Linked DNA regions of Homo sapiens: region 1 is linked to region 2. The links come from fine-mapping of genetic effects on gene expression. A gene starts in region 2. The other region holds a variant in brackets. All regions are shown on one strand. Distances are between the middles of the regions.

The links. PIP is the estimated chance that this variant, and not a neighbour inherited with it, causes the effect.
Region 1: its variant is the best candidate, but not a certain one, in a credible set for the expression of ALDH1A3-AS1 in prefrontal cortex (BrainSeq, PIP 0.71).

Annotation. Positions count from the first base shown.
Region 1 is chr15:100,893,239-100,898,291 of GRCh38, forward strand. ALDH1A3 (aldehyde dehydrogenase 1 family member A3) reads left to right here. Exons shown (of 13, transcript NM_000693.4): 6 at 716-844; 7 at 2,695-2,808; 8 at 4,845-4,947. ALDH1A3-AS1 (ALDH1A3 antisense RNA 1) reads right to left here. Exons shown (of 2, transcript NR_135827.1): 2 at 1-2,828. Among named protein-coding and RNA genes, the nearest start is that of ALDH1A3, 16 kb to the left of the region's middle. The variant GA/G (reference allele first, on the strand shown) is at 3,177.
Region 2 is chr15:100,916,506-100,922,019 of GRCh38, forward strand. It overlaps ALDH1A3-AS1 (ALDH1A3 antisense RNA 1), which reads right to left and starts at 2,778. Exons shown (of 2, transcript NR_135827.1): 1 at 2,299-2,778. It overlaps LRRK1 (leucine rich repeat kinase 1), which reads left to right and starts at 2,852. Exons shown (of 34, transcript NM_024652.6): 1 at 2,852-2,946. It overlaps ALDH1A3 (aldehyde dehydrogenase 1 family member A3), which reads left to right. Exons shown (of 13, transcript NM_000693.4): 13 at 1-121. RefSeq lists silencers at 1,519-1,738, 2,499-3,088 and enhancers at 1,524-2,116, 1,869-1,958, 2,009-2,128, 3,303-3,894, 4,421-4,480.

The DNA of each region.
Region 1 (5,053 bases), 23 kb before region 2:
AGAGTGGTCAGGAATGGCCAGCATTCCCAGGAAGGTGGTCTCTTAGCTGGGCCTTAAAGATAAGAAAGACTTGTTCAACAAGGAAAAGGATTTTCCAAGGAGTGGGAATGGCCTAGGCAAAAGTGCAGAGGTGGCTGGGCTACTTGGAAGGGAACAGCAGGAAAGCTGGTGGGGCTAGAGCTCAGGCAGGAGCAAAAGTGAGGAAAAGGGTGAGCACACGTGGCAGGTGGTGTGGGCCAGCTTCCAGCAGCTTTGGCTGCTAAGGGGCCGGGACTTTATTCATTGGGCGGTGGGGATGCTTATAGGTGCCCAAGAAGTGCAACAATGCTGCCTGTCTGTTTGGGAAGCCTCTGGCCATTGCAACAACAGCCAGGCAGGAAGCTGAAGAGCCAGGTGGCAACATGAAGTGAGGGTTCAAAAAGTGCCCATGGAGGCAGGGAGGAGGACACGTCTTCAGCAGATGTTTTAGAGGGAGAGGTAGAACACATGCAACAGCATCCTCTTTGCAAAGGCTGCCTATTAGTACCACCCAGAATGCAGTTTAGGAAGTGCTGTGCAGGATTGCAGTTCTGATCATTGCACACTCCTATGTTACCCCACATACCCCAAATCCAGACCATGAAAAGCAAGTGTCCTCCACAAAGGCATCGTTGAGCACATGGGACAGGGTAAGAGGGTGGATCTGGGCCTCCAAAGCCCCTGTGCTCTGTCGCAGTGGAACTTCCCCCTGCTGATGCTGGTGTGGAAGCTGGCACCCGCCCTCTGCTGTGGGAACACCATGGTCCTGAAGCCTGCGGAGCAGACACCTCTCACCGCCCTTTATCTCGGCTCTCTGATCAAAGAGGTGAGACATCCAAAAAGAAAATATCACATGTTCTTGGTAACATTCCCACTCCTAGGAACCAGGCCACCGTCACGAGATGGGACAGTGGCAGACTGCTGGCAATCGAGTGGGAAGGGAATGACTTCCAGTGTTTTGTTTGGCGACTGCACGTTCTTTCTCCTGCTTGTGGCCACTGAGCTGGAGAAACTCCATTCCTCCCAGTGGTCCTAATGAGAATGCTTAACTCTTATTATGGGCTCAAACCTATGGTTGAGGACCCAGTGGTTTGTCTAGAGAATTTTCAGGGGGGGTCAACCAAGAGGGAGCCAAATATTTGGGAGGTTCTCTGGGATTTGCATTCTCAGTTTATGAAATGGTCCATTTTTCTCTGGAGAGGTGGCCTCGTCAGCTCTAGCTGGGCGGCTGCAGCAGTCCGTGTGCCGGGTCCCTGCTAATCAGTGCCCTCTGCTCTGAATGCAATCTCTTCTCCCTCAGGCAGCCAGAACTTAGGGAAACAGAGGCTCAATGGGACACCTCCTTCCAGACATACCTTTAGTCATTCCATCCCCAGGTTGTATGGAGCAAAGATTTAGAGAAAGCAACAGGAAGCAAAGAGGGACAGAAGAAAAGATCCATTCCTTTCTCTTCTTAGTCGGGCTGATATGACCGGCAGGCAGGTCCACAGTTGCTTAGAAGCAAGGTGGGAACAGCTGGTGATGAGCCAATTTTCCACTTTCCTTTGGTGATGTGGGGCATAATTAAGTCACACTGGTGAGACTTAGGAATGTGAAAATCCCAACTGTTAAGAAACAGTGCCTAAAAATCTAAAGACTCAAGCAGCGTGCCTAAAATCTTGATTTTCTGAAATAATGTGTTCTAAGTAAGACTCAGCACAGGTGGGGAAGAGCATCCTCCACCTCGTTTGTTTTGTGTTCTCGCCTGATAAAGAGGCTTAGTATATGAAAAACACGAGGCATGAACGTGAACGAGGTGGCAGTCCCTGCCTTCCAGAAGGGCTTGCTCCAGGTGAGACCCAGGTTGAACAAGCAAAGAACTTTAAGGGAGTGATACCCTGTCACCATTTGGAATAATAACGGGTCTGATTAAAAAATGAAAACTGGGCTCACGCCTGTAATCCCAGGACTTTGGGAAGCCGAGGTGGGTGGATCACGAGGTCAGGAGATCGAGACCATCCTGGCTAACACAGTGAAACCCCATCTCTACTTAAAAAAAAAAAAATTAGCCAGGCGTGGTGGCGGGCACCTGTAGTCCCAGCTACTCAGGAGGCTGAGACAGGAGAATGGCGTGAACCTGGGAGGCGGAGCTTACAGTGAGCCAAGATCGCGCCACTACACTCTAGCCAGGGCGACAGAGCAAGACTCCATCTCAAAAAAAAAAAAAAGAAGAAAAAACAAAACTGAAGCTCTTGGCAGATATTTTGCAGGTGCCTCTGATCCTGGGCAGGGCATTCTGATCAAGGTACCCCTCTCCCCTTAACGCATACACACACTCTCCCTCACACACACACACACCCCACATGGAAAGGTGCTGTGCTACAGGCGGGCCATGGCCACCTTGAAGCATAACCACACATTTGCACTGCATATCACTTTGGGATGGGGTCCCCCCCCAGAAGGAGAAGTGGGCATCTCCCCTTGCCCAGCCTGCACACTGGGCTGGCAGCAGGGGATGAGAAGCCCAGGTCAGCTCCCAGGGTGCCCACGGTCAACTGCTTCTGGGTCCTGGGTAAATCCAGCCCGGCCCGGGTTCCCTGTGGGGATGTGAGGCAGCCACGGCTCTCTCGGCCCAAATGTGGATCCGTGGTGGATGAAGTCCGTTCTTCTTCAAGTGCTATCTTGATTTCTTCCCAGGCCGGGTTCCCTCCAGGAGTGGTGAACATTGTGCCAGGATTCGGGCCCACAGTGGGAGCAGCAATTTCTTCTCACCCTCAGATCAACAAGATCGCCTTCACCGGCTCCACAGAGGTAACCCTCCTCACAGGGTGCTGGGGAAAGTGAAAGGGGCGTGTTATTTGACACCCGTGAGCTTTTCCTTTGACAGGCTTTAATATGATTTGTTTTTCTTCTAAATTTGACCATGTTTTAGTACATAACAACCAGTTAAAAAAAGTCACTGGTCTAGTTTCCAAACTAAATAAATATCTAATAGAACTCAGAAGCCTTAGAAGAAAAGATTGAGAGATAAGATAAAGTAGAAATGTAAAATATTCATCTGTCAAACACCATAATTAAGATTAAGAGATAAATAACAAGCTCAGAGAAAAATAGTCGTGATGCATGCAGTGCTCCAAGAATTTATATCCGTCATATGCAAAGTGCTCCTACAAGTCAAT[GA/G]AAAAAAAAAACCAAACTGAATGGTAGAAAAATGGGCAGTTCAGAGAATAGAAATACGACGTGCCCATTAAGCTTAAACTAGTTTGCTGGTAATCAGGAAAATGCAAATTCAAACAAAATCAGACTTTCCTTTTGCCTGCCAGATTGCTAAGAACTGAAATGATACTGCTGAGAATATGGGGAAGCAGGTGCTCAGCGACACTTGCCCTAAGATGCACAGTGTTTTGGTAGCACTCATCCAACATTTAAAGTGAAAAACTTTTCGATTCAGAAGCTCCATTTCAAAAAAAGAAAAAACTACTTAGAGAAATTTTCTCATGAGGCTTCAGGGACATATTTTCAAGGATATTATATTCATTCTCTGGAATGTTTTACAGCCGTTACAACAAGGAAAGCTGTCCATGATCTATTGTTGAAGCACAAAACAGCAAACGGTAGAAAATTACCCACAATATTTTCCCATTCGTAGAGGTGTGTGCTTGTAGAAGTAGAAATTATCTGGAAGGATTCCCAAGAAATCCTTACTGATGGCCACCTATGGGGTGGGCTCGGGGCAGAGCCGGAGGGAAGCTGAAGGCTTTCTCCCTGTAATTCACATACATCTCTATGTGGAATTACTTTTAATGAGAAAGTATTTCTTCTGTACTTAAAAAAGAAAAAAACACCCGCTGCAATCAGTGTCCCCATCCCCCTCCTTAGTTAGTCCAAGCCCTGGTGGATGCTGTTACTCTCCTTGGAGACAGACACTGCCCTGTGGATGGATTCCAGACCTCATTCAGCCATCACCCATGAGCTTGCTGATGTTTAAAATGCGCTCACACCTTAGCATTGGAGAAAACAGTCTCAGACCCGGAAGAGCCTGGGCCGCGCCTTGCTAGCTTCTGGCTCTAGGCCTCCGTGTCTGCACTGGTCTCTGAGGATCTTCCCAGCTCTGAAGTTCGTGGTGCTGGGCTTTACTTGTTGCCCTAGATAAGTCACCGAGTCATGCTGGGCCAGCCCTCCCCTCCAGGGGTACAGTGGGCAATGGGAGAGACCCCGTGGGGGCCTTGAGCATGACTGGTGAGTGGCTTTTCTGCTCATAGCGCACCCCTTCACTCCCTGCCTGTCTGCGGCAGCCTCAGTCTTAGAGTGTGTTTCCAGAGAATCGGCTCCTTCTCATCCGGAAGGCTGGCTGCCCTCGCTACTTCTCTAACACTTGGAGGTTCCCTCAGATCACACCAAAGAGCCACACAGAACCACCCCCCTACTGGGCTGTTGGAATTTCAGCTGTTTCTAGTGAGAGGTAGAAGAGTCACCCTGCGGTCCCTGAAGCCCTTTACCAGACTGGCTGGACCAGCCTGCTGGGCTCAGAAGGACAGGCACCAGGACAGGTTAGCGGGTGGCAGCCCTGTTCCCAGCCAGCTGTGTGGGCTTCCAGAGGCTCTAACTCACACCTGTAAGTGGAGCGGCTTAGACCAAGGATCCCAGGATGTCATGGTCTGGCATGGGAGGAGATGCTGGCAGAGGCCAGGACAGTGAAGGGACGGCATCGGGGCCTGGAGCGCCTGGGCCGAGAGCCAGGTGGTGGCACTGCCACCCGGGCTTGATCAGAATGTTCACTGATGTTTACGCCTGGGCCAAGTTCAGCAACATCCAAGGTAAATTGTGATCTGTGTTCTGTCCTGGAGGTTGGAAAACTGGTTAAAGAAGCTGCGTCCCGGAGCAATCTGAAGCGGGTGACGCTGGAGCTGGGGGGGAAGAACCCCTGCATCGTGTGTGCGGACGCTGACTGTGAGTCTCTGCCCTCCTGGGCTTTGCTGGGGCTTCAGGGCATCCATCTGTCTCCCCCTACTTCCTGGCCTGAATTCAAAACCAACTGAGAGTAAGATGTGTGCAC
Region 2 (5,514 bases):
TCTTTTAAGGTTTACCCCTGTGGTGTGGTTTAAAAATCTATAGGCCTGGGAATTCCGATCCTAGCTGCAGATCGCATCCCACAATGCGAGAATGATAAAATAAAATTGGATATTTGAGAAACATTGTGCTTTTTCATTTAAAGACCAAAGTCATTTGAATTCGATGGCAGGCCTTTCTCTTTCTGAGACCTGTACGAAATGGCTGATATTAAAGCAGGATCAATAATGTAAGCATAAAATTACATTTGCTCAGTCAGTCGGGCCCAGTGCTTTGCCTGAGTGTGAAACCCATTTCTGTGGGCTTGGGGGTTGACCAGGCAAGGAGCTGGGCCTCAGAGGTTCCATGTCATAGCTGGCTGAGTTTCAGCTGTTATCTAAGCTGCCTGAGTCTCCTTTTATCATAAAGTAGTGATGGTGTCAGTGTGCGAAATGGTGGGGAGGACTGCATGAGGATTGACGGACAGCATTGTGCCCCTGACGGTGAGCACAAGTGTCTGTTTTTGTCACCTTTTCCTCTAGAGAAATCTAGAGGATCTAGAGAAAGGATCAATTTGGGTTTTACTGACCTCAAGTTTCTAAAGCTTCTAACCAAGAAGCCTCAATCACCCCGTTGTGAGCTGACGCTGCCATTGGCTCAAGATCATTGCTGGTACTGGGGTATGTCCTCCAAGCTCATCCCTTGCATTTGATGTGGAAAGCCCAGATCATTTTGACATGGGTGGCAAAGCACCACCACTTTAACAAAAAAGGGAGGCTGGGATCAGATCTCTCGTAACATATGCACTTATGTTAAGAGAATTTAGACACATTATTTAGAGACATCCCATTTCTCAATCCAAATGTGAGCAGGAAACTGTAGGAGAAGGATATTTTCCCTCATTTGGTGTCCCGGAACATGACTCCCTGAAGGGAGCCATTCTGGGGACAATTGGAGGGTGTGGTATGCGTGTGCACACATGCATTTGTGTGCCTGGTGTGCGTGTGGGGGTTGGCACCTCTCTAGAAGTGGACCCTTTGGGATGTCCTAGCTTCTCCTGCTGGTGGATGAAGCCTTTCTAATGGCTTTGCTCCTTGCTCCTAGGCATGAGCTTGAAGGGGGATAATGAAGGGCGTTTAGGAAGTTGCTCAAGGAAGACTGTCTGAGGAAACTGCGTACTGGGCTGAAGAAAGACAACCGGAAAACACTGAAGGAGCGCTCAGCCACTGCACCTTCAAAAAGGCAGAAAAGTCAGTTCAGGGAGGTGCCTCCCAGCTACCCCACCCACCTCAGGAGGGGTCATTCCAACCTAGGGTGCTGAGAATCTGGGTGGGATTACCAGCAAAAGCTAGAGAACCATGGGTCAGCGACCCTTAGGAAGAAGTGGAAAGGAGTCTTAACTTACCTGCAATAACCTTCCTATGCGAAGTTGTGGCTAACGCATGCCTAATGGCTAGAATTAAATGCTGGGAATATAACGAGCTCAGCACAGGTTATCCGCGTGTCAGATGTTCCTGCTGTCTTCTACAGTGGGGACATTTCCTAGCCTATTCCCAGGCTCCTTTAGAAGGGAAGTGGAGGTGCCCCATCTTCACCTGCCGCGTCCCCTCCAGCGTCTGCCCGGGCCCTGGGCCTGCGCTCCCTCGCGGTGGCGCCAGGTGGCGGGGCTGCGCGCCCTGGAGGAGCTGCACCGCCGTCGCGGGGCTCTCTCAGCACTGAGGACACCACGCCCTGCAAATTGTTGGGAACTTGTCGGTGGCAATCACACTGCTGGCTCCTGCAAACTGGTGTGAGGCCCTCAGGGGTGAGAACAGGATTGCAGAACTGCGCTCACCCTTTTGGAAAGTCGTCCAGTGGCAGAAGTAGCCTCCCAGGAGCAGAGCGAAGCTGCTCGGTGGTCCCCTCTCCAACCAGGGACCCAAGAAGCCGCTCAAGGGAACACGGCCCCGCGGCGTCCGGGAGGTCCTGCAGGAGCCCTGCGGCTGCCCCGGTTCTGTGAAATGGCAGTGAGGGTGGGGGAGATGTGCGCTAAATCCTGGGAACGTGCGAGTCATAACTTTCCAGGAGAGGGGCCCAGGGCGCTGGTCCTGCAGGGCGTGGAACCCTCTGCTCTTCCTGAGCAGGCTTTGTCCCCGGGTCGACACGGGGAGCTCAGCGTGAGGCCCGCCTGCAGCGTGGACGCAGATCTTTTTTATGGTCTGCGTTTCTGTATTAGCCTCAGCAGCCTGGTGACGCCTTTATAAAAGGTCGAAACACGATAAATTGCCAATATTCCACGTTTTATGTATTCCCCCCAAAGCCGACAATTAACAATGACTCACCGAGCAGCAGATTCTTTGCACACATCCATAATTGAATCAGTAAAATCCATGTGTTGGAGGATATGCAAATTGCAGGTCGTTAACGCTTTAGAACGACACATTTCTGTATCGCCCCGTGAAGAGCTCTACGCACATGAATGTTCCCCGTCTGTTTAACTGTTACGGCCGCAGTGTGTGGGCCGCAGGCGCGCTGGGGGCTCATCTGCTGATTTTGCTGCCCCTGGAGCAGAGGGATAGCGAAAGCGGGGCTGAGCGCAGCACGGACCGATCCCATCGCCGCGCTCGCCCCGCGTGGAGGCAGCCGGGTGCCCGAACCTGAAGGAGGACCCGGTGCCGGAAGGGCCCGCGGACCCCGGCGTCTCCCGGGGCATCGAGCGCCATCGCCCGCGTTTTACGGCCAGGGAAACTGAGGCGGCCGCCGAGGGGACGCCTCGCGACGGTTCCTGGGAGAGCTGGCGGCGGCCTTGCTCTGCGCGCTCTTCGCGCCGCCCTCCCCGCCCGCCCGCCTCAGGATTGAGGAAGTGCGTCTGGGCCCGGCCCCGGCGCGGGGGGCAGACGGCGGTGGGACGGCCAGGCCCCGGCCCCGCCAGTGTGTCCGCCCGGCCCCGCGTCCCGGAGCGCCCGCACCCGGCCCCGCCGCCGCCTCAGGTAAGCGCCGCTCCTGCCGGCGCCCCCCGGCGGCCTGGCTGCCTCCCGGCCCCGCCCGGGGAACCCAGAGCCCGCGCCCGGCGCCCGCGGGGAGCCTCGGCCTCTGCCTGCCCGCGGGCCCCTGCGCTCCGGGCGGCCGCGTGGTCGGGCACGGGGGGCCGTTGCGCAGGGGCCGCGGCCCGAGGGGCGCGGAGGGCGTGTGGGGCGACCCCGGTCTCACGTCCCCGCTGCCTCCCGCCGCGCCCGGAGCCCAGCCAGCCTGTGGGAGGGGAGCGCGCGGGGCCCGAGCAGGGAACCCCGAAACCCCGTCCGGGCAGGGTCGGGAAAGCTGGGAAGCGGAGGCAAGAGACACGAGTCGGGAGACACGAGCCGGGGAGCCCATAGGTTTCCTCTGCCTTTGGAGCGAACCCAGTCCCTTAGCGGGGAGCGGGCGGAGTGTGAGCGCGCGGGTGAGCCCGTGCCGGGGTGTCGGCAAGAGACCGCCCGGGAGCCTCTCGCTGGTCCGGGGCTTCCTGGGGTTGCGGGGCGGCCCAGCGAGGCTTCACCCTCCTCGATGTCTGGGTCACGCTTCTTGCCCAGGTGGTCTCTGGCTGGCGCAGATACAACTGCTCTGTCTACCATGGTCTCTGCAAGCTACAGGGGACCTTCCTGGCAGGCAGGGACGCGGGAAGGAAGCCTAGGAAGGCCGGGGTCAGCGAGGAGACGCTGGTGGAGAATCTGAGAACCCCCGTGGCCATCTCAACCTACCCCTTCACAGTATGAGGCCGCGAAGTTTTTCTCCCACGAACACTTCCCCTGCAACAGGTAGAGAAACGGGGGCATATAGCTTTCAGCAAACCTCTCACCGTGTACACTAATGATAGAGTTTGCCAGCCACTCACAGGGTATCAAAATGCCCAGACATTAAAGGGATAGCTAGAACATGCACAATTTTGGAAAATGTTAACATTAAACGCCTTTTATGATTTGATTCTCTTCATCTTTGCCTATGTCCTGAAAGAGAAAATAATATAACAAACTAACCTCACACCTAATTTGTTCCTAAAGGAGGTTTTGCGGTCAGCCAAACCTTTCCCTCTCCCAAAAGTCGATGTCTCTGGCAGTGACCTCGCAGTCAACTCGGATCCTCAGATAAAAAACATTCAGTCTGTTGAATCTATGTCTAAAATGTGTCCTGATCTGTCCCCTTTTTCTTATGCCCCCACCCCCCACCCTGCCCCTTGTCCAGGGTACCAGCATCTCTTTACTGTAGGATTTCAGTTCCCCCTTCCTCCATTCTCTATATAGCAGCGTGCGTCTGTGTGTGTCTGTGTGTTTAAATGGGTAAATCAGACCATATCAGTCCTCTTTATGGAGTCCTTCAGTAGCTTCTCCTTGCAACTGGCACGCAATCCAGGAGACCTCCTTCTCCTCACACCCCCAGCTGATCCAGCCTCTGCTGTCTCGGACCACCAGGCCATTGCCCCAGGCCACACTGGCTGAGCTTGCTGTCCAGCACTGGTCCCCTGCACTGCTGCCTCCTGACTCTTCACACAGCCTCAGAAAGTCTTCCCTGGTCACCCTCTGAAAACCCACGCTCCCTCTCACATCCCTCACTCTGCAGCCTCCCTGCAGTCCCCATTCTGTACTCCTTCTTTATCTGTTTAATTTCTCCTTAATTATCTTGTGGTCTCCACTGGAGCTCTTGGGGTCAGAGACTGATCTGTCTTGCTTATTGCTGTGCCCTCATTCCCATAACTGTACAGGGAGATACCCCGTGCATGGTGGTAGAGTGACTGGATGGGGAATGGACAACCCTAACTTACCTGTGGTTTCAGACTCATGGAGCATTTCTCTCCTCCACCCTTTTTGGGCTCATCTGGGATTGAGAACAACATATTTCTCTGGCCTGCAGCTCCAAGATATTTGGATGCCCCCAAACCCATTAAACACATTTTATAGGCAAAAGCCAATGCTAGTAAGGGATGCAAATAGCACTCAAGAGATTTCTAGAATCATGGGCTAACCATTTTGACCAGGATTTTGTTTCAAAAAGGAACTAGGTGATATGAATGAGCATGTCTAGCATGCTTTGCTTGCAAGGGACTTCTAACTTCTAACTGATATCGACAGTCCTTCCCAAGCCTCCTAAAATATCTGGGCTTCTCTGCTGTCAGAAGCTTTATAGCAATTACTTAGCTGTCTGCTCCCCCACCAGCTTCACAAACTCATGAAGTTCCCTCTTCATAGAAAGAACTCAATAAGACATTTGTAGAATGAATGACAGGTTCTTCTCTTTTCTTTTCTCTAGAGTCTTGCTCTGTCACCCAGGTTGGAGTGCAGTGGTGCAATCTTGGCTCACTGCAACCTCCACCTCCCCCAGTTTAAGTGATTCTCATGCCTCGGCCTCCCAAGTAGCTGGGATTACAGGCGCCCACCAGCATGCCCAGCTAATTTTTGTAATTTTAGTAGAGATGGGTTTTTACCATATTGGCCAGGGTGATCTCGAACTCCTGACCTCAAGTGATCCACTCTCCTCGGCCTCCCAAAGAGCTGGGATTACAAGCGTGAACCACCGCACCCATCTAT